Linked DNA regions of Homo sapiens: region 1 is linked to region 2. Evidence: fine-mapped expression QTL. A gene starts in region 2. The other region holds a variant in brackets. All regions are shown on one strand. Distances are from middle to middle. Region 1 overlaps COPS3 (COP9 signalosome subunit 3). Region 2 holds the start of FLCN (folliculin).

Region 1 (5,530 bases), 28 kb after region 2:
TTGCGGTGAGCCGAGATCGTGCCACTGCACTCCAGCCTGGGCGACAGAGCAAGACTCCATTTCAAAAAAAAAAAAAAGAGATTCTCCTGCCTCAGTCTCCTGAGTAGCTGGGATTACAGGCGCCTGCTGCCAGGCCCAGCTAATTTTTGCATTTTTAGTAGAGACATTTTCACCATGTTGGCCAGGCTGGTCTTGAATTCCTGACCTCAGGCGATTTGCCTGCCTCGGCCTCCCAGTGTGCTGGGATTACAGGTGTGAGCCACCTCACCCAGCCTCTTGCCTTTTCTTTTTTTTTTTTTTTTTTTTGAGATGGAGTTTTGCTCTTGTTGCCCAAGCTGGAGTGCAATGGCACGATCTCGGCTCACTGCAACCTCCGCCTCTTGGGTTCAAGCAATTCTCCTGCTTCAGCCTCCTGAGTAGCTAGGATTACAGGCATGCACCACCATGCCCAGCTAAATTTTGTATTTTTAGTAGAGATGGGGTTTCTCCACGTTGGTCAGGCTGGTCTCGAACTCCCGACCTCAGGTGATCCGCCGGCCTCGGCCTCCCAAAGTGCTGGGATTACAGGCGTGAGCCACCGCACTCGGACGCCTCTTACCTTTTTAACACCCACTCATCCTGATATTTCAAGATCAAGTTTGCTCATGAGTTAACTATATTTGGCTACAGCAATGATAATGCATCCAGTGGCTACGAAGTGCATTTTTATAATTTTCCGAATGCGTAGTCTTAAAGAGAAGCCACCTTGAAGATTTAACCTGACTAGACACGTGCTTTAATGACACCATCTCTGCCTACTGGCACCTTATGGTGGCCCTCCTCAGGTCCCCTCAACAGGACACATCAACCACTCATTGTGGTATGGTTCAGAGCCACGGATGTGTGTACATGTATGCATGTGTATTATGTATTAGAATTCCAACTAAACCGAGCTCTCTGAAGGTTTTAAATATCCTTTATTACTTAATACATGCTATGAACTAAATAGGAACTTACGAACATCTAACTAATTTACCTTAAGTAAAGTGGTTTATTAATCAATATTGTGTATCTCTTTTTCAGAGTCTGAGTAAACCTCCAGAATATTCTACCAAATTGTGTACTATGTTTCATTACACAGACACAGAAAGGGTGGGAGGGACTTTTACTGTGTACTCCTTTCTACCCTTTAAATTTTGAATCAAGAGAATGTTTCACTGATTAAATAAAACTTAACAAAATACCACACATGGTTTTAGAATAAGACACAACCAAGATCACTCAGTTCAATCTCTTCCTTATATGCAAAGGAAGCTATAAAGGTCAAGAGATGTCATAACTTATTCCAAATCAGATAAGGTATAAGTGCAAGCCTAGATTAGAACCCCCAGACAAGTGCTCTTCTATGCACTGGCGCTGCTCCTCAACTTAGGGATCAGGTTACCACTATTTACATGATCACAGAGAAGTAGTCTCTGAAAGGACCAACACCTGAAACGGAGGCCCTGGGATCAGACCACTCTAGCCACAAACCTATGGGAGCACTTTTTTGATCACACAAGTTCAGAACAACCTCAGCTAATTTTTAGAGAGATTACCTGTTCATAAAAGTAGAGAGCTCTTTCAAAGTTCTTCAGCCCAGTATAGATCATCCCTCCATAATAATAGTAACATAAAAAGTGTTTTGCATCATAGGCTCCATTCTCTTTACAGATATCCATCATATCCACGTCAAGATATGGAAGGGCAGGCTTAAAGCATTTTGCTAGCAAACAAAGCTGTGAACAAATTGATATTAAATCATCACTTTAATTTTACTTAGGCAGGTATTAGCAGAAGGAGAAAATTCATTGATTCCAGAAATTTCCAAATAATGTAATTGTGTTTTACATTTTATTGACTAAAATTATCTAAATGTCAACACATTTCATGTATCTGCTATCTGAAATGCTTAGGACCACAAGTGTTTCAAATTTTGGAATATTTGCAGAATACATACCAGTTAAGCATCCCTAATCTGAAAACCTGAAATCCAATTGCTCCAATGAGCACTTTGAGTGCCAAGTTGGCATTCTAAAGATTTCAGATTTTGGAGCATTTTGGGTTTCAAATTTTTGGATTGGGTTTCAAATTTTCAGATTAGGAATAGTCAACCTGTACTCCATTTTCTTAGCCATTCAGAAAAAAACAGCATTACCTTTTTTTTTTTTTTTGAAATGGAGTCTCACTCTGTCACACAGGCTGGAGTGCAGTGGCGTCATCTCAGCTCACTGCAACCTCCACCTCCCGGGTTCAAGTGATTCTCCTGCATTAGCCTCCCGAGTAGCTGGGATTACAGGCGTGCACCACCACACCCAGCTAATTTTTGTATTTTTAGTAGAGACAGGGTTTCACCACATTAGCCAGGCTGGTCTCGAACTCCTGACCTCAAGTGATCCGTCCACCTTGGCCTCCGAATGTGCTAGGATTACAGGCGTGAGCCACCTCACCTGGGGGAGCATTTCTTTATAAAAAGCTAAACAGCTATAAGGCCAAGCATGCTATAGATGATTGAGAATAGAGAACTCTACAGACAAGACTCACTTATCTCTTAACCTATCCCTACCCATCTGATTAGAGGGAAAAAGAGTGTGTCCTCTTTCTTTACTGAACTAGTGGAATAGAAAGAGACCAGCATGGTGTGATACAAGTAGAAGTGGTTCCTTTAATTAATCCTTTAGGTAAATACAGGGAATTGTGCAACTCAAGAAAGCAAGCCCTTAGAACAGTTATCTAGCTAATGGAGACGCAGTGTAGACATGCGTACAAACTCACTGAGCTATACACTTTAGTATTTTACTGTCT[A/G]TATGTTGTACCTCAATCACAATTTTTTTAAAACATTAAAAAGCACATCTTCATATGAAACTAGAACATGTGTTTGAAATAATCCACATACCATGTTATTCTTGAAGGAAACAATGTAAATATCCCATGCAGACTTCTAAAACCATCGCATACTCATATTATAGAATACTCCGTACCTGTAGAGTACTGCTACAGAATCATCTCCAAGATATGTTAAATACAAAAAGCAAGCTACATAAGAGTATGCATAGATTATTACAATTTGTGTAAAAAATGAGAAAATATATATTCGTATTTGCTTTTATGTCCATAAAAAGTTTTTGGAAGGATACACGAGAAATAACTAACATAGTTTCCTTTGTAGAGAAGAAATAGATGGCTAGCAAACAGAATGGGAAGGAGACTTCATTATATACCTGCCCTTTTGCCTTCTGGACTTTGAACATCGCAAAATAAGATAAATAAATGAGGCCAGGCACGGTGGTTCACACCTGTAATCCCAGCACTTTGGGAGGCTGAGGTGGGCGGATCGCTTGAAGTCAGGAGTTCAAGACCAGCCTGACCAAAATGGTGAAACCCCATCTCTACTAAAAATACAAAAATTAGCCGGGTGTAGTGGTGCACGTCCACAATCCCAGCTACTCAGGAGGCTGAGGAAGGAGAATTGCTTGAACCTGGGAGGCGGAGCTTGCAGTGAGCCTAGATCATGCCACTGCACTCCAGCCTGGGCAACAGAGCAAGACTCCATCTCAAAAAATAAAAAAAAAAAAGATAAATGAATAACATTTTAAGGTGTAAGAAGTTAGCTATGTTAAGTCTCAGGTTCCACAATTTTTTTTTAGTAGAGATGGGATTTCTCCATGTTGGTCAGGCTGGTCTGGAACTCCGGACCTCAGGTGATCCGCCCGCCTCAGCCTCCCAAAGTGTTGGGATTACAGGCGTGAACCACTGCACCTGGCAGGCTCCACAATTTTAAAAAAATGATTCGGGATTTTAAAAAAAGTTACAGGCCGGGCACAGTGGCTCACGCCTGTAATCCCAGCACTTTGGGAGGCTGAGGCGAGCGGATCACGACGTCAGGAGATTGAGACCATTCTGGCTAACACAGTAAAACCCCGTGTCTACTAAAAATACAAAAAAATTAGCCAGGCGTGATAGCGGGCGCCTGTAGTCCCAGCTACTCGGGAGGCTGAGGCGGGAGAATGGCGTGAACCCGGGAGGCGGAGCTTGCAGTGAGCTGAGATGGCGCCAGCCTGGGCGACAGAGCAAGACTCCGTCTCAAAAAAAAAAAAAAAAAAAAGTTACAACTAGGGCCGGGTGTGGTGGCTCACACCTGTAATCCTAGCACTTTGGGAGGCTGAGGCGGGTGGATCATGAGGTCAGGAGTTCAACGCCAGCCTGGCCAACATGGTGAAACCCTGTTCTACTAAAAATACAAAAATTAGCTAGGCTTGGTGGTGGGTGCTTGTAGTCTCAGCTACGCGAGAGGCTGAGGCAGGAGAATTGCTTGAACCCGGGAGGCAGAGGTTGCAGTGAGCTGAGATTGTGCCACTGCACTCCAGCATGGGCGACAAAGTGAGACTGTCTCAAAAAAAAAAAAAAAAAAAGTTACAACTATTAATTACCCTATCTGTTCGACAAGCTTACTAGTTGAGCCCCATCCTACAGTTTGCATCCAGCACCCGCCTGAATGTAATAGATGTACCTACATATTCCAACTTCTATAACACATCACAATATCGCCAACTTGCCTGTGTTTATCAAACCCAATGTTGAGCAAGCCCATAAACAACCTACACCTCTGACTTGGTGTGAATCACACACTTTGGTTGCTTACCTGGCAGAGATCAGCATGTATTGAGGTCAGCTGGTTTGTATTCATCTGCATCTTGTCTATGGCTTGCTTAAGGATGCCAATTCCTCGCAGGGGCTGTCAGAAATGACATCTCTTTCAGATAAGTTCTCAAAGATGGCAGCACATTGGATCTTATGTTGTCACTTATAAATAAAAAATAACACTAATTGATAGGTTCCTTTAAATAGCAATATGAGGTTTCCATACTCTTTCAGGAAATTTCTGTCCCATTTAAGTCAGAAAACTTTTCTTAAGCTGTTTCTTGGAATTTTTAGATAACTCAGCACCATTTTTTAAATCATAAAAAGCTTTTATTTTTACAATGAAGATCAATAATCAAAAACAGTATTACTTTCTCAACAGTTTATTATATTAACATCTAAACAAATGAAAACTTTCCAAATCACTTATTATACAAGAGACAACAGCCTATGCTTAGGAAAATTACTTGTGGCTAAGGGTGTTGGCATTTTCCCATAGGGCAGTCTACCCCTTACCTGGTAGTAAATTACTACCAAAACTAACACCATAGATTTCAAAAGGACTGTTTCCTGCCCTGATTATAAATAAGAAGACCAAGTGTCAAGTAAGGCATAATCAGTTTTTGGCAGACTAAAATATAGTCTCTTCCAAAATTGCTGGGCACGGTGGCTCACACCTGTAATCCCAGCATTTTGGGAGGCCAAGATGGGTGGATCATGAGGTCAGGAGATCAAGATTATCCTGGCCAACATGGCAAAACCCCATGTCTACTAAAAATACAAAAATTAGCCGGGCATGGTGGGATGTGCCTGTGGTCCCAGCTACTCAGGAGGCTGAGGCAGGAGAATCGCTTGAACCCGGGAGGCGGAG
Region 2 (5,000 bases):
AACCTGGGAGACGGAGGTTGCAGTGAGCTGAGATCGCACCATTGCACTCCAGCCTGGGCAATAAGAGTAAAACTCCATTTCAAAAAATACAAAATACGAAAATTAGCCAGGCCTGGTGGCACGTGCCTGTAGTGCCAGCTACTCAGGAGGCTGAGGCAGGAGAATCGTTTGAGCCTGGAAGCGGAGGTGGCAGTGAGCCGAGATCGCATCACTGCACTCCAGCCTGGGCGACAGAATGAGATTCTGTCTCCAAAAAAGAAAGAAAGAAAGAAAGAAAGCAAAAGCACTTGTCAGACGAGAGCTCTGACTCTGACTCCATGGATCATGTGCACCAGAGGCCCAGGCAGCCCCTGAAAGAGAGGGAGGTGCCCTACAGAGCACTTAGCTTTGCGGTCACCGGAGCCTGCCCTCACCAGCCAGGTGACACCAAGTGTTACTAGACCTCTCTGAATACCACCCAAAAGCTGAGAAACAGAGGCCTCTCAGAATTCGCATTACACATGGAATCAGAATTCTGGGCAGCGTGAGGTCATTCTTCACTCACTGTTCAATTCCAATCTCTACCAGGTGTTTGCTGAAGAAAACAAACTGGTTTGAGTGTGTCTCACGAGTCTGTTTCCAACAAGCTTTCCAGAACCCACATAGGAAGCCGAAATGCCCTGGCTGACAGTCTCTTCATCAACATATCCAAAGACAGTATTCAAATTCCCTGATGTGGTAGAGTGTCTGTTCATGTCCCCCTCCCACAATGGCTGAGTCCCAGACCTGGACAGTGACCTCACCACCACCCGTGGTGCGCCCTGGCCCTATTTCAACCCTACTTCCTATGGTGTTCTCATAGCACCGTGGAGAATTAAAGAGGCCACTAAGTAAGGGCACTCTAAATAAACAAAGCACTATAACGGATCTTAACCAGCAGTGGACACACAGCTTCTATAACTAGTCTCCCACTGGGGAGCCTCATTAAGTTAGCAGCTGGGATCCCAACAAGCCCAGGGTGAAAAGTTCTGCAGGGGATGACTGCCAGTTCAGATCCACTCTCACTGTGGCTCTATTTCCACCGTTTCCCTGGATTTCCATTCACAGAGCTCCCTGACATAGGACACTAGAAGGGCAAACGCAGTGTCACCTGCCACTATTACTCAATTACTTGATGACCACGGTGATAATCTGGCACTAAACTGGCTGTGGCCAAAGGCTAGAGAGCCAGAACCTACTTCCAGCAAGCTCCTCCTTGCCCTGTGTCCCCACTTGAAGAGACTGCTAGTGACCACACCTTGGACTTCAATCCACAAGCCAATCCATTCTTTCCAGGAGACAAGGACGCGACTGACAGTACTCTCAACTGGAGAGAAGCGCGGTCTTCCACCCTCCCTGGAGGACACGGTGCTACCCTATTAGCGCATCAGAGGACCCTCCTGAACGCCAAACTGGGAGAAGAGGATGACACACACCCTCTCCTCCAAACAGAGCGAAGACAAAACCTGGGAGAAGGGAAGGCAAACAGTCCCGTTTCATGGCAACATCAAATGAGATCACAGTCCTCATCCCCATAGACTTGGTTAATGGGCGTGCCCCCAACCTATCTTCAAATCTCAGGGTCTCGGCGACGCCCTGGACTCTGGCCCTAAACCCTCCCCCATTACTCGTCCACCTGGGACCAACGAAAACTCGGACATGCCCCTCCGCCAACCCCTCAGACCCCCGCCTACCTGCTCCCCAAATCGAGGCCCGCGGGACACCTGGACTCGGCAGCCGGGGTCCCGCTCTGGGTCCCAGCCCCGCCCCTGACTGCGCTGGGTAGGTGGTCGCTGCGGGACCCGGACCGGCGGAATCACACCCAGAGCCCCCAAGCCCACGGCAGGGATGTCACCCGGGGTGGCGAGGCTCTCAAGCCCGGGTTCAGGCTCTCAGGGGAGCTGGCAGAACCAGGAGCGACCACACTCACTCGCGGTCCCGCAGCCCCGCCGACACCCAGGCGCGTGACTCCCTGAGCCGTACCACCACCCAACACTGCGGTGGGGGTGCGGGAGCCGTCCGAGCGCGTCCTGCACCGCGAGGAGAGCCGGGCCTCCCTAGCTCTCGCAAGCCCAGGAACACAGTCCGAGTCCTACAACTCCGAGGTCTGACTGGGAAGCAGGGGCCGCTGCCCGACAATTACCCTTTTCCACCGCCCCTATTCCGGTGCCCCCCTCTGGGAAGTTCCGAATGGTTCAGACCGCACCAGCTGGGGATGCTGGGGGAAACCATTTCATTAAGCGCGGGAGTATGCTGAAACTTAAAAATCATTTTAAAAAGAGATTTGAGGGTAAATATAGCCAACCTAAGGCTTCCTGTCCACATAAAAGAGAAAAATAAAGAAAAAACGTTATAAGAGGTTGGCAGGCTTTTTTTTTTTGCTTCACCAATGGTTTTTATTAAATTGCTGATGGAACCCGTCCTCTCCCTACATTGAGAGTATGGAAGGTGCGGGAGACGGCCGTCACGTGACGCGGAGAAGGCGCGGCGCCCGTGGGAGGTTGGTTGCAGAACTCGGAACCGCTGTGCGCGCGCATGTGTGGGATTCGGTCTTCCTCCCTCAGTGGGTCTTTTTTAAAAATGTGAAAATCAGTTTTTGAATAATATTCTTTTTTTGAGACAGAGTTTCGCTTTCGCTCTTGTTGCCCAGGCTGGAGTCCAGTGGCGCGACCTCGCCTTACTGCAACCTCCGCTTCCCGGGTTCAAGCGATTCTCCTGCCTCAGCCTCCCGAGTAGCTGGGGACTACAGGCGTCCGCCACCACGCCTGGCTAATTTTTTGTATTTTTGCAGAGACGGGTTTTCACCCTTTTGGCCAGGCTGGTCTTGAACTCCTAACCTCAGGTGATCCACCAGCCTCGGCCTCCCAAAGTGCTGGGATTACAGGCGTGAGCCACCGCGCCCGGCCTGAATAATATTTTTTAAAACTAGAGCGCCCATTACTAAATTTAGCTACTTAGAAGTTAATTGTAAAGCCATTAGTTTGTGATGTAGTGTGGGTCCTTCCAGTGAAGACCGGAGAGAGATGGGAATCAGAGCCTGACCCGCCTGTGCGCGCTGCCCCCTGAGGTGTGGCTGCCCCCTGAGGTGTGGCCGCCCCGGAGCCTTCCGCCGCGGCCGAGGCTATGGTTGCCGCAGAGTCTCCAGAATGTGCTCACCAGGAATAGAATAGAAAAGTGGGTGGTTGTGTTTTTGAAATCAGAAGTCACTTATTTTTTTCTCTTTAAATTTCCATGTTCTGGTCGGGCGCGGTGGCTCACGCCTATAATATCCCAACACTTTGGGAGGCCGAGGTGGGCGGATTACGAGGTAAAGAGATGGAGACCATCCTGGCCAACAGGTGAAACCCCCTCTCTACTAAGAATACAAAAAAAATTAGCTGGGCGTGGTGGCACACGCCTGTAGTCCCAGCTACTCTGGTGGCTGAGGCAGGAGAATTGCTTAAACCCGGGAGGCAGAGGTTGCAGTGAGCTGAGATCGTGCCACTGCACTCCAGCCTGGCACAGAGCGAGACTCCATCTAAAAAAAAAAAAAAAAATCCATGGTCTGTTGAAAACGGGACACGAGAAAAGAACGAAAGTGCAGCTTGTGTTTTCTGCCGTCTTATAGTGGCTTGGTAAAGATTAAGGAATATGGGGTGGCGTTACGAGGTTAGGCATTGCCTTTATGTGTTTAATTATTCTTATCAAGCGAATTCCTCTTGCTGTTGGACAGCGCAAACTTAATTTCTGAGGAGGTAGTAAGTTACAGGGTGATTTTATTTTATTTTATTTTAGAGACGGAGTCTTGCTATGTCTCCCAGGCTGGAGTGCAGTGGCGCGATCTCGGCTCACTGCTACCTCCACCTCCCGGGTTCAAGTTCTTGAAACTAATGTTTGTTAATGAGATTTTTAAGTCAAGAACAAGGTTTTTTTCACCTTGTAACTTTAATTCCAGGAATTACCTTTTTCAGTTTGTTAGTGGAGTTCACCACCTTGCTCAGATTATCCTTATTTCCATGGTGATAGGCTAATGGCGGAAGGTTATTCAACTAGTGTATTTTCAGTAAAAGTCAATGTGCATTTACCACACCTGGGCTCAATTTAGGCCATTAACATCTTTCCCAACACCACTGGCTTCAGCCACCTACCTCTTTTGGAGGTACTTTCTTAAATAAACCTATAAATCTTTAAAAAAAAAATTAACAACTGCCAAATCTTTGCCTCAGTGAATTGTACCAAAGGTTATTTAAATTGGGCTCTCATGGGGTATAAAAACTTTCAAGGTCATGCAACAAAAGGGACATCTTAGAAGTCGGAAAATGTGCCCATTCTCATGGGAAAGATAATTGAAACTCAGCAGTAATGTTCAGAAAGCACAGATACCAATAATGTTCAACAATTCACAACCAAATGAAATGCAATGCTAATCTCAAAGCTTCTATCCCATAATGGAAATTGTATGAAATGATTCCAGAAGCTCTGGATATGTTACTGCCTGGCATGCATACAATCCAGAATGTGTTTTTTCCACCACTGAAACAGGCTCAATCAGAATTAAGATTTTTTTCCACCACTGAAATAGGCTCAATCAGAATTAAGGTTTTTTGATGCTTTTCTGCCTTCTTACTACTGCTAAACCAAGAGGCTTCATTATAGCTGAGTATCCAAACTGATCAATCACTTCCAAGGCATCAGTTGCCAGGACCATAGAGCCAAGTGGCAGGGAAAAGTCACATCTTATTCAGAAATTTGTTTTAGAGTTTTTTATATGTACCCTTAGCCACAGGGGCTCTGATGTAGCTGTAGGATACAGCTGGGCTTTATCTTTCAGTCAAACCACATGTCAATGACTCTTAGTTTCCAGTTTCAGGAAGAAGGGGTGTATTTCATTTGTAAGCATTTCAATTTAATATTTTTAATCACATCTCATATTTTCAAGTTACTATAATTGATTCCCTGTTATAAAAATAATGATCTAAGTTTTTGTTTCTTCCAGCAACTGA

Evidence for each region.
Region 1: its variant is fine-mapped to the expression of FLCN in whole blood (INTERVAL, PIP above 0.99).

The regions. Positions count from the first base shown.
Region 1 is chr17:17,263,225-17,268,754 of GRCh38, forward strand. It overlaps COPS3 (COP9 signalosome subunit 3), which reads right to left. Exons shown (of 12, transcript NM_003653.4): 5 at 4,661-4,753; 6 at 1,578-1,757. Among named protein-coding and RNA genes, the nearest start is that of COPS3, 15 kb to the right of the region's middle. The variant A/G (reference allele first, on the strand shown) is at 2,824.
Region 2 is chr17:17,235,200-17,240,199 of GRCh38, forward strand. FLCN (folliculin) reads right to left here and starts at 1,969. Exons shown (of 14, transcript NM_144997.7): 1 at 1,713-1,969. RefSeq lists an enhancer at 2,186-2,295 and a silencer at 2,730-2,915.